Homo sapiens: one gene and its partner. The protein of the gene in region 1 purifies or fractionates together with the protein of each later gene. This does not show direct contact. Each region holds a gene or a part of one and is shown on either strand. Other genes may lie near its edges.

The links.
Region 2: the proteins of CTDSP2 (region 1) and POM121 purify together in Homo sapiens (affinity purification with mass spectrometry; 3 studies listed by BioGRID and IntAct, with this or other methods). This does not show direct contact.

The regions. Positions count from the first base shown.
Region 1 is NC_000012.12:57,839,673-57,844,891, reverse strand, and holds part of CTDSP2 (carboxy-terminal domain RNA polymerase II polypeptide A small phosphatase 2), read left to right. Parts: intron 1-1,130; exon of another isoform or gene 1,131-2,633; intron 2,634-5,219. UniProt on the Homo sapiens protein: Preferentially catalyzes the dephosphorylation of 'Ser-5' within the tandem 7 residue repeats in the C-terminal domain (CTD) of the largest RNA polymerase II subunit POLR2A.
Region 2 is NC_000007.14:72,934,614-72,939,832, forward strand, and holds part of POM121 (nuclear envelope pore membrane protein POM 121), read left to right. Parts: intron 1-3,976; coding exon 3,977-4,068; intron 4,069-4,722; coding exon 4,723-4,796; intron 4,797-5,219. UniProt on the Homo sapiens protein: Essential component of the nuclear pore complex (NPC). The repeat-containing domain may be involved in anchoring components of the pore complex to the pore membrane. When overexpressed in cells induces the formation of cytoplasmic annulate lamellae (AL).

The sequences.
Region 1 (5,219 bases):
CAGTGTGTTCCTCTTGCATCACTGGCCGGACTTTAAATAAGCCTGCCCTGAGAAGGGATGGCCTTGCCTACTCAGATCCCAACCCCCGAGAAGGCTCCGGCCTCCCTGACCTCGGTGTTGCCATGATTTCTGCTCTCCTGGCTGCATCACTAACCAGGCTGTGACCCAGGCAGCAACTTCACCGCCTCTGCTGGCTGCTCAACTGTGCTGATGGCTGAAAAAGGAAGGGAGCCTGCGTGTGTTTATAGCTCACTCCTGACTCTTCCCACTCCCTTTTTATCCCAGGAAAAGACCCTAAGAGCTAGCCAGAGGGGAAGAAACCTAGATGTGGGGGGATTCAAGAGGGGGCAGTGGTGATGAGTAGGGGGAGGAGCCCTGTGCTTCCCCACTAGGTCTTCCTCTCTTGCAGGGACTCTCTTGCAGGGAGTGTGCCTTGGGCATCGTGGGGCCACGCGAGGAGTAAGGGAAAGCTGGACTGCGCCGGGGCATCTTAGAAATCAGAGCTGGAAGTTTCATCCACCAGGGTGAATGGCAGGCTACAGAATAGATAACAGCAGAAAGCAAAGCAACTGGCTTGACAGTGTTAAGTTGCTGGTGTTGGATTTTCTTGGAGTTAATGTTTCTCCTTTTTTGTGTGTGTGGTTTAAGCCAGCAGCCACTGGGTCTCTCCCTCCCCATGTAATTTTTTATTTTAATTGAGATGGAGTCTTACTCTGTTGCCCAGGCTAGAGTGCAGTGGCGCAATCTCAGCTCACTGCAACCTCCGCCTCCTAAATTCAAGCAATTCTCCTGCCTCAGCCTCCCAAGTAGCTGGGATTACAGGCGCGCGCCATCACGCTTGGCTAATTTTTTTGTATTTTTTAGTAGAGACAGGGGTTTCGCCAGTTGCCCAGGCTGGTCTCGACTCCTGAGGTGATCAGCCCCCTTCGGCCTCCCAAAGTGCTGGGATTACAGGCGTGAGCCACCGCGCCCGGCCCCTCCCCATGTAATTTGATTGCATTCCAGAGAAGACAGACTTTCTTCCTGGGCTGCTTAGGCACCCAGCAACCACTAAACCAACTTTCTGAGTCCCACATCATTTACAAACAAAACCTACGTCTTCAAAACAAAACAAAAAACAAAAGCTGGGGGACTGGGGAAGCAGATGTTTTAATTGGCTCCTTTTGGAGTTCCTTCTTCTCCCCACTCCGTCCTCTCCACAACATCCCATCTCCATGCCTTGCCTGCCTTTGGAAAAAGGGGAAGAAGGAGTGTGAGGTACTTATTATTAATAAGTAAATTTCTGGAAAGAAACAAATTGCTCCTAGCTTGGGTGGCTATTTAGTGAAGTTACTTGCCATTGCGGGTTTTTTTTTTCTTTTTTTAGCATTCTGTTCTCTGAGGTTTAAGGCTGTCTGGGTGCGTTGATGATTCAAAAGTAATTACAGTAGGGGAAGTAGAACAAAGTTGCTGAAAGCATTGATGATAAAAGCACCAAAATTGGATCATCTTCCCAGACAGATGGGTGAAATGGCTTTCTGGTACAGCAAGGACAGGATTGTGTGTAACATCAAAAAGAAAAAAGAAATGTTAATATCAGCTTGGCAAGAATGGCTGTTGATTGCAGCTCTATATGAGATTGTCACCCCATTGCTAAGAGGTTGTGACCTTGGCTTTGGGATTAGATGGGGGAAAGCCAAGGAAACAAGACCCACGCTGTAACCTCCCAACGTGAAATGAGACCTGGTGGAGGCAGCCTCTTCCGGAGCTCAGTGACCCACACGCCTTTTGGAGGAATCAGAGATTTTTTTGTTGTCCATGAATCCTGATGCCCCTTCCTCTCGATGATGCCCTGGATTACCTTCTCACATGCCGAACTGGACAGGTTCTGATAGCTAATTGCAAGGATTCTTCTGAGAGACTGACCATCTCTGAAAATTACGATGTGGCAAGTTTTCAGGATGGCTAGCTCTTTTGTTATCCGCATAAGGGAGAAATTCTGCCTTATTCCCTCAAAAAGTTGTTCAGACACCGTTCACTGTAGATGTAGGCAAGCCTTTAACTTGAAAAGCTTAGACATGAATCTTGCTGGAGCTTCCTTCCATAGCTTGCTATGCAGGGGGCGGGAAGCCTGCATGTTTATAGCTGGCTCCTCCTCCTGCCCTGCTGGTGCCTCTCACCTTCCTTTGCCTACCCTGGGTCTTGGCCTCTTTGTGCTCTCACAGTGACTGCTGAGGCTCCCTCCTGCATCTCCTTTGGAGTTTTTCCCCCATCTTTGGGTAAGGGTTGCAGCCTGCGTGGTGACTTAAGCTTGTGTTTGCTCCTGTCCCCAAAATTGCAGAGGAGCGCTGATAAATCAGCAACAAAGTTTGTAAATGCCTAACATCTGGGGCTGGGGGTTTGCAGTTGACTTGCAGAGCTTTCCACTGAGCAGCACTGGAATTGCTGTGAAAAATCCCTCGGAGGATGGCAGAGGTGGGGGTGTTCCTTTGTCCTCTCTTCTCAACCGTAGAGGTCTTAAAGAAACTGGGTAGCAGAGAGGTGTCATTTCATCCTTTCCATGGGACCTTCCAAATCCCTTATCATGGATTTTGTTAAAATGGTAAATACTAAAGAAGTCACATTTCTAGCCAACGTGAATTGATGCTCCCAACCTGTGAAGAATTAAAGTGTTTGTAAATAAGCATGGAAAAGAAAGACAATATGTAAATATATATGGGATTGTGTGTATGTGTGTACATATCAATACATAGCTTCCCTTCCAATTCCTCCTACAATTTTTTTTTTCTGCTAGCTTTTGGGTAATTTGGGGTATTGTCTTTTATTCCCATCATGGTAAGTTTGGTTCTTAGATTGGACAGAGTGGGGACCAGGGTCAGGGATGGTGGTTAAAGTTTACATTGTTACTTCAAAGCATTGTTTCTGAAGCAAAATTGCTTCAGGCCTGGGTTCAAATACCTTCTTTTCCTATTTGCAATGAGACTTGATAAATCACTTTAGTATTCTGAGTAACTTATCTATAAAGTAGTAATAATGATATCTACCCTTCTATTATACTTGGTACTTAGTAGGTGCTTGATAAATATTAATGTCCTCCCTCTTTACATAGTTAGACTACTCTGTTCGCCCTCCTCCATTCCCCCAAGGACACAGTGTAAACAGCACGTAGTCTTGTGGGTTTTATTTTTCAAGACAGGTGGCCGGGGGTCAGAGGGGACACTGATTGTGGGGGCTTGGGCCTTCTGGAAGGATCAACCTCTTAGGCTTACAAACAGCCTTGCTGCACAGACCCCTTCTTTGTGTCATGTGACTTGGGATGTGATTTGTTATCTGCCTGGGCTGTGGGACTTTGGCCATTCTGTCTGGTGCCTGGGCATCTGGGGGTGGGAGAAGGCCAGGCATGTGCCCCCTGTGAGTCTCTAAAGTCTAAACTTCCTTAGAGGTTCTCAAATATGGATATAACGAATATTCAGGACAACTGTATGCTACATTCTCTCACTGTCTGCTTTGAGAGTTAATGAATTCAGAGAGATTGAGGTTTCTTTTAGGTAATTTTAATAAGAGGGGGAAAAAGAAAATGGGGTTTGAAGAGAAATAGATGTTCTTAAGCTATTTGTTTGCTCCTGTGGTTTTGGGGTACAACATTGAGAAAGTACAAAAGCAGCATTGATCTGCTTTTCATCTTGTCTTAGTCTGGCCAGCTCTGGGAAGCATGGAATTAACTCGCTTGTCTTTGGGACGTGGGATTGGGTGTGGCCCTGACATATTTCCCTCACTTTTCTGAAATGGAGTAGTAGTTCTGAACTGGGATGCAGATGAGCACATTAACACGCAAATCTTACAAAGAAAGTACTAGAAATTAAAGTGGATAAGTTGACGACTTAAAACTGGAAGCATCTCTGGACCAGAGACCAAATAGAATGGAGTTTCTTTGTCTGGCAAAATGCCCAGCCCTTCAGGTCTGAGTATGCCTGCACCAGGATCTGTTATCACAGGGTACTCCAGTGAGCGCCACAGCCTCCCTCTAGGCAAAAGTGTGTATGCCCTGTTTTATGTTAGCTATTCTAGGAGTTAGCCTTGAACCTGATCTCTGAGTGGATCTGACATTTCCATTTCCCTCCTAGGTGCTCTAGTCCTTCCCCCACCCCCATCCCCCCAAATCAGACTTTGCTCTTACTCTCTTTTTATTCTATACCTTCTTTTATTTCTTGCCACAGCTTTTTCCATCCTCTTGAATTTGCACTTTCCCATCTGCATTGTTCCCAGGGAACAAATATGGCCCCAATCCCAGTGAGAGCCAAGCAGACTCATGGAAAGGCTCAAATTGCCTGCGGAAGGCTTCCTGGATAGTAGATCCCAGCTTTTCTGTTCCCGCAGCAGAATAGAGCTAGGACCCCTCTTTCACAGGAACAGGGGCCTGCAGGTAGAGACAGCAGACCCAGGTTTTCTGACTCACGTCACATAGAACTACCCCTAGAGAAGAAAACTGGATCCTAGGCATGAGTCCTCTAAGGCTTGCAGAAACACTGAGCCAGTCAGGTACGGTGGGGAGAGGGGCCAAGGGGACTTTGGCTGAATTGCCTTCTAGCCCTGGGTTAGTCAGAGACCCTGGCAACCGGTAGATACTGGCTCTCAGCCAGGGACACACATCAGAGTCTCCTGTGACACTTGCTAAAAATACAGACCCCCCACCTGGGATCTGCTGAATCAGCGCATGGGCAGGTGGGTCAGGCATGCATGTGTTCCAAATGCTCCTTGTGGCTCTGACAGGTGCCCCTGGAGAAGAGCCAGGTAGGCACAGCAGTGGCCCCAACTGCCTGTTTTGCCCCGAGCAGGAAAATTCCTCTTGGTGGTCCCGTTTTACTGTATGTTAAAGATCTGTGGCTCTTCAAGGGGAGTCCTAAAGTTTTCAGAGTAAATGGACAGAGTAATGATCCATCCTTGTTTACCCAGTAATGGTTACAGCCAATATTTATAGAGTACTTGCCATAGGCAAGGTACTATTCCTAGCATTTTATATCTCGTATCTCACTTAGTTCTCCTGACAACTTTTCCTTTCCAATAAGAGGAATTAACCTCACTTTACAGATAAGGAAAACTTTCACAGGGAGAGGGAAGGACTTTGCCCAAGGGTACATGGCTAGTGTCAGCCAGACATTTGCATTGTCTGGCATTTCACTTTTTTTTTTGAGATGGAGTCTTGCTCTGTCGCCCAGGCTGGAGTGCAGTGGCGCGATCTC
Region 2 (5,219 bases), on another chromosome or scaffold:
CTTTTATATGTAAATCCATAAACCACCTGAAATTAATTTTTGTATATGGTGTGAGGTTGGAATCAAAATTAGTTTTTTTTGTGTTTGGTGGTGTTGGTGGTTTTTGTTGTTGTTGTTGTTGTTTTTTACTGTAGAAATACCCATTTCTCTTAGCAACATTTATTGAAAGGACCATCCTTATTTCTCTGCAGCACCGTCTTTGTCTAATTTAAGTGTCTGTATATATGTGGGTCCATTTCTAGACTCTGTTTTGTTCCATTGGTCTATTTTTCTACCTACCCTTGTGCCAGTCTTTGTTTTACCCCTAGCCTTATACTTTAAGTCTTGATAGAGTCAGTCATCCCACTTTCTCATTTCTCTTCAGGACTGTCTTGTATCTTGGCCTTTTGCATTTTCATATAATTTTTAGATCAACTTGTCAATTTCCACAAAAAAAAAAAAAAGTTCTGAGATACTGATTGGGATTGCCTTTCATCTACTGATTACTTTGGATGGAATTAACATTGTTACAATATTGACCTTGTTTACTTCTAATCTATGAACATGGAATGTCGTTATTTATTTATTTAACTTTTGAGACAAGGGGTCTTGCTCTGTGGCCCAGGCTGGAGTGCAGTGACATGATCATAGCTCACTACTGCCTTGAACTCCCAGGCTCAAGCGATTCTCCTGCCTCAGCCTCTTGAGTAGCTGGGACCACAGGCATGCATCACCACACCTAGCTAATTTTTAAAAACTTATAATAGAGACACAGTCTCACTATGTTGCCTAGGCTGGTCTCAAACTCCTGAGCTCAAGCAATCTTCCCACCTTGGCCTCCCTGAGTGCTGGGATTGTAGGCGTGAGCCACCATGTCCTGCCTCCTTCATTTATTTACATCATCTCTATTTCTTCTCTGTAGAGGTTTTACTTCTTTTTTATTAGATTTACAATCTCGGCTCACTGCAGCCTCCACCTGCTGGGTTCAAGTGATTCTCCAGCCTCAGACTTCCGAGTAGCTGAGATTACAGGCACGTGCCACCACACCTGGCGAATTTTTGTAGTTTTAGTAGAGACAGGGTTTCACCTTGTTGGCCAGGCTGATCTCAAACTCCTGACCTCAGGTGATCCACCTGCCTCTGCCTCCCAAAGTGCTGAGATTACAGGCGTGAGCCACGGCGCCTGGCCCTAGGTATATGCTATTCTAAATAGTGCCTTCATATATGCTATTCTAAATAGTGCCTTCAAAATGTGATTGGCTGTGCTGGTGTGTAGAAATACAACTGATTTTGTATTCAGAAAGTTTGCTAAATCTGTATGTTCTTTAGGATTTTAGTACATACACTCAGGTCTATGATAATGAGTTTTTCCTTTCCTCTGCAATCTTATTCTGTTTATGTCTTGCTGCACTTGGCTAGGACTTTAAGTTGAATAGACATGATAATAAACATCCTTGTCTTGTTAGATCTGAAATGAGTGTGTATGTACAGTCAATGAAGTAGAGGAGTAATACTTTTTTCCCCTAATTGTTAAACCAGTTGTTCAGTTGTCTTCCAGTCCTAGCTAATCATTACAGTCTCCTTTGGCATTTCTGTTTTTTCTTTATTTTTTCTTGGTAGAGATGAGACTTCACTATGTTACCTAGGCTGGTCTCAAAACTCTTGGGCTCAAGTGATCCTCCCACCTTGGCCTCCCAAAGTGTTGGGATTACAGGCATGCACCACCACACCTGGCTAATTTTTGTATTCCTTTTTTTTTTTGAGACGGAGTCTTGCTCTGTCTCCCAGCCATTCTCCTGCCTCAGACTCCCAAGTAGCTGGGACTACAGGCACCTGCCACCACACCCGGCTAATTTTTTGTATTTTTAGTAGAGACGGGGTTTCACCATGTTAGCCAGGATGGTCTCAATCTCCTGACCTCGTGATCCGCCCACCTTGGCCTCCCAAAGTGGTGGGATTACAGGCGTCAGCCACCGTGCCCAGCTTGTTTTTGTATTTCTAGAAGAGATGAGGTTTCACCATGTTGGCCATGCTGGTCTGGAATTCCTGACCTCAGGTGATCCTCCTGCCTCAGCCTCCTGAAGTGCTAGGATTACAGGTGTGAGCCACCTCGTCTGGCCCCTTTGGCATTTCTGACCCTTGCTTGCTCAGTGATGTGTATCCCTCAGTGTCTGGAGCACATTGTGAAGAAAAATGCAAGGTTTATGGTTTTTATTGTTTTAATTTTATTACTTTAACTACAGGTAAGGTCTTGCTATGTTGCCCAGGCTGGTCCGAAACTCCTGGGCTCAAGCAGTTCTCCTGCCTCAGTTCTGAAAGTGCTAGGATTACAGGTGTGAGCCACCGCACTCGGCCATCTATGTGCTTTTAAAGTTCCACAGGTGGCTAGGTGTGGTGGCTCACGCCTGTAATCCCAGCACTTTTGGAGGCCAAGGCAGGCAGATCACGAGGTCAAGAGATCAAGACCATCCTGGCCAACATGGTGAAACCCTGTCTCTACTAAAGATACAAAAATTAGCTGGGTGTGGTGGCATGTTCCTGTAGTCCCAGCTACTCGGGAGGCTGAGGCAGGAGAATCGCTTGAACCAGGGAGGCGGAGGTTGCAGTGAGCTGAGATCGCGCCACTGCACTCCAGCCTGGTAACAGAGCAAGGCTCCGTCTCAAAAAAAAAAAAAGTTCCACAGGTGACTGAGCCGTCCTTTGAGAACCAGTGAGGTAGTGTCAGGGATCTGAAGTGATTGAAAATGCCGCTTATATATTCAATCCTTGGATCCCTTTGATGAATTTTTGTATTCTGCTCTTTTATATGCCTGTAATCCCATGTTTTTTAAACCATTGTGCTCTGGCCTTTCTTGCTGTTTGAGCGTAACTTCAACTGTTATTGCCGTGAGCAGTCTTCTCAAGCTCCTCCTGGGCCCGGCTTCCTGATGGTGGCCTCACTGAACTGTTCTGCTGCTTACCACTTGTCTGAAGCTTCCTCTTTTCCCTTTTTGAACTCTTATTAAGCATTGCTGGCTTCCTGTTTGTACTTATATGATGTAGCTGGTACTGGGTAAGAAATCACTAGCAGCTTTTCAAGTAGGAAAGACGGTCTGAGGTGACAGTTTAGTGGCTTTGTAATTAGGCTCAGCACTTACGAGACTATTTGCAGTGTCCGCTCTGTGCCATCTACTTTGCTGCTGGTCTGTGGAGGAAGCAGAGATGAAAACACCGTCTTTGCTGTCAAGAACTCACCTGGTGGAAGAGGCAGATGTATGGATAATCATCACATGATGATAAATGCCATCGTTGTTGCAAAAGTCATAAACGTTACGACAGCATATTTTTAAAATGAAGTTAGTAAATTAAAATAGAAAATTTAATAGAAGCAAGACTAAATTAGTTTACTGGGTTATCTTCTTTAATTTACTTCTATCCTCTCCGTAGACAGTCTGGCACAGGTTTGAATGTGTCCTGGCTCTTCATTACTGAGGCTAACGTTCCACCTAATATATGCAAAAGTGTGTCCATCCCTTCTACCTTTATTCGCATTCCATTACTTTTATAGACTTTTCTTCTTTTGCTTTCATAATTAATACTGGCAGTTGACTTTCTTTTCAGGGGTCTTTCTTCACAAACAAATTTTTTTCATTTTCTTTTCTTTTTTTTTTTTTGAGACAGGGTCTCACTCTGTCACCCAGGCTGGAGTGCAGTGGGGCAATCTCAGCTCACTGCAGCATCCTGAGTAGTTGGGACCACAGATGCAAACCACCACACCCAACTGATTTTTCAGTTTTTTTGTAGAGACAGGGGTCTCGCTATGTTACCCAGGCTGGGCTCAAATTCCTGGGCTCAAGCGATCCTCCCACCTTGGCCTCCCAGCATGCTGGGATTACAGGCATGACTAACCATTTAACCATAAAGAATGTTTTTTTAGTCACTTGAAAAGAGACTTTGTCGTGTTGAGGGTCAGATGCTAAGTTATCAGCAGGCTCAGTCATGTCCCTCTTGATTTTTAGCTCTGGAAGAGAAATGGCCCCAGTTCATCACCCTTCTCTAGCCCAGCCTCCTCCCGCTCCCAGACACCGGAGAGGCCAGCAAAGAAAATAAGGTACTTGGCATTCTCCTGCAGTTTTCATTTGCTGCGTGGACAGGCGGGGGTGAGGAAAGGTGGGAAACGAACCTGGCTCTTAGGCTTTGTGCTGCTGTGACTTGGAGAATCAAAGAAACTTAAGTCCCTGAGAGGTACAATGCAGTACCCACCCGAAGTGCTGTCATCCCTACAGTCTTGGATACTGACTCCAGTGGCCTCTGGCTGTCGCCTCCCACTCCAGCATGAGGGATCGGGTGCAAGCACAGAGGCCATGCAGAGTGGAGAGCAGAGAGAGTCAAGTCAGCGGGCAGTCGCCTTCAGGTTCTTGACTCGAGCTGACCCCCTAGGTGCTTGCAGTTGGCTGGAATGCCACTCCCTCAGGGATCACATCTGTGTCTAGAACTCCCAGGGACTTGATAGGTTGTAAGTAAGGTTTGAAGATTATTGTTTTGTGCTTGTTTTAAGACAAAAGCTGTCTTCATGGCCTCTGTGAACAGCCTCCCTTCATTCTGTTGGAATTTCCTGTTGACTTTTTTTATCCTGGCATACTGAGATCTTAAATGATGGTTGTTTTAGACATTGGCCACTTGGTAGTTAGGAGGGTGTGAGAAATTATTTAATACTTCAGCCAAGAAGCCTTTCTAGACTAAATTGTTCCTTTTTTCCTGACAGAGAAGAGGAGCTGTGTCATCATTCCAGTTCTTCAACTCCATTGGCAGCAGACAGGGAGTCCCAGGGAGAAAAGGGTAGGTTGCTGAGCCAGGAGGAGGGGCTGCTGTTGGTGGTGGAGGTGTTTGTGGAGGATGTAGAGATTAATACCTATTGAAAAAAGGTCTTGAGCATTGCTATGTCTAAGGCATGTTAGATACAAAGAGAGAGATTTCCTCTCCTTCAGAAGTTTATAGTCTGATGAGGGAGAAAGGCTACAGACAGGGACTAACGATTGGATAGAGGTAAGCTCAGTTTGAGTCACCTGTGGGTGATCCCAGTAATTACTGCACAGTAAGCGGTTTGTGTGCGCGCCTTAATCTTGCAAACACCATCCAAGCAACCAAACCATAGAAGATTGAATCTTTTCAGAGATACCCATTGAAAACTCAATGTGAAATGCGAAGTGGGTAGACACAACCATCCATTTCTGGAAGAGGGAAGGAAGCAAACGAGTCTTG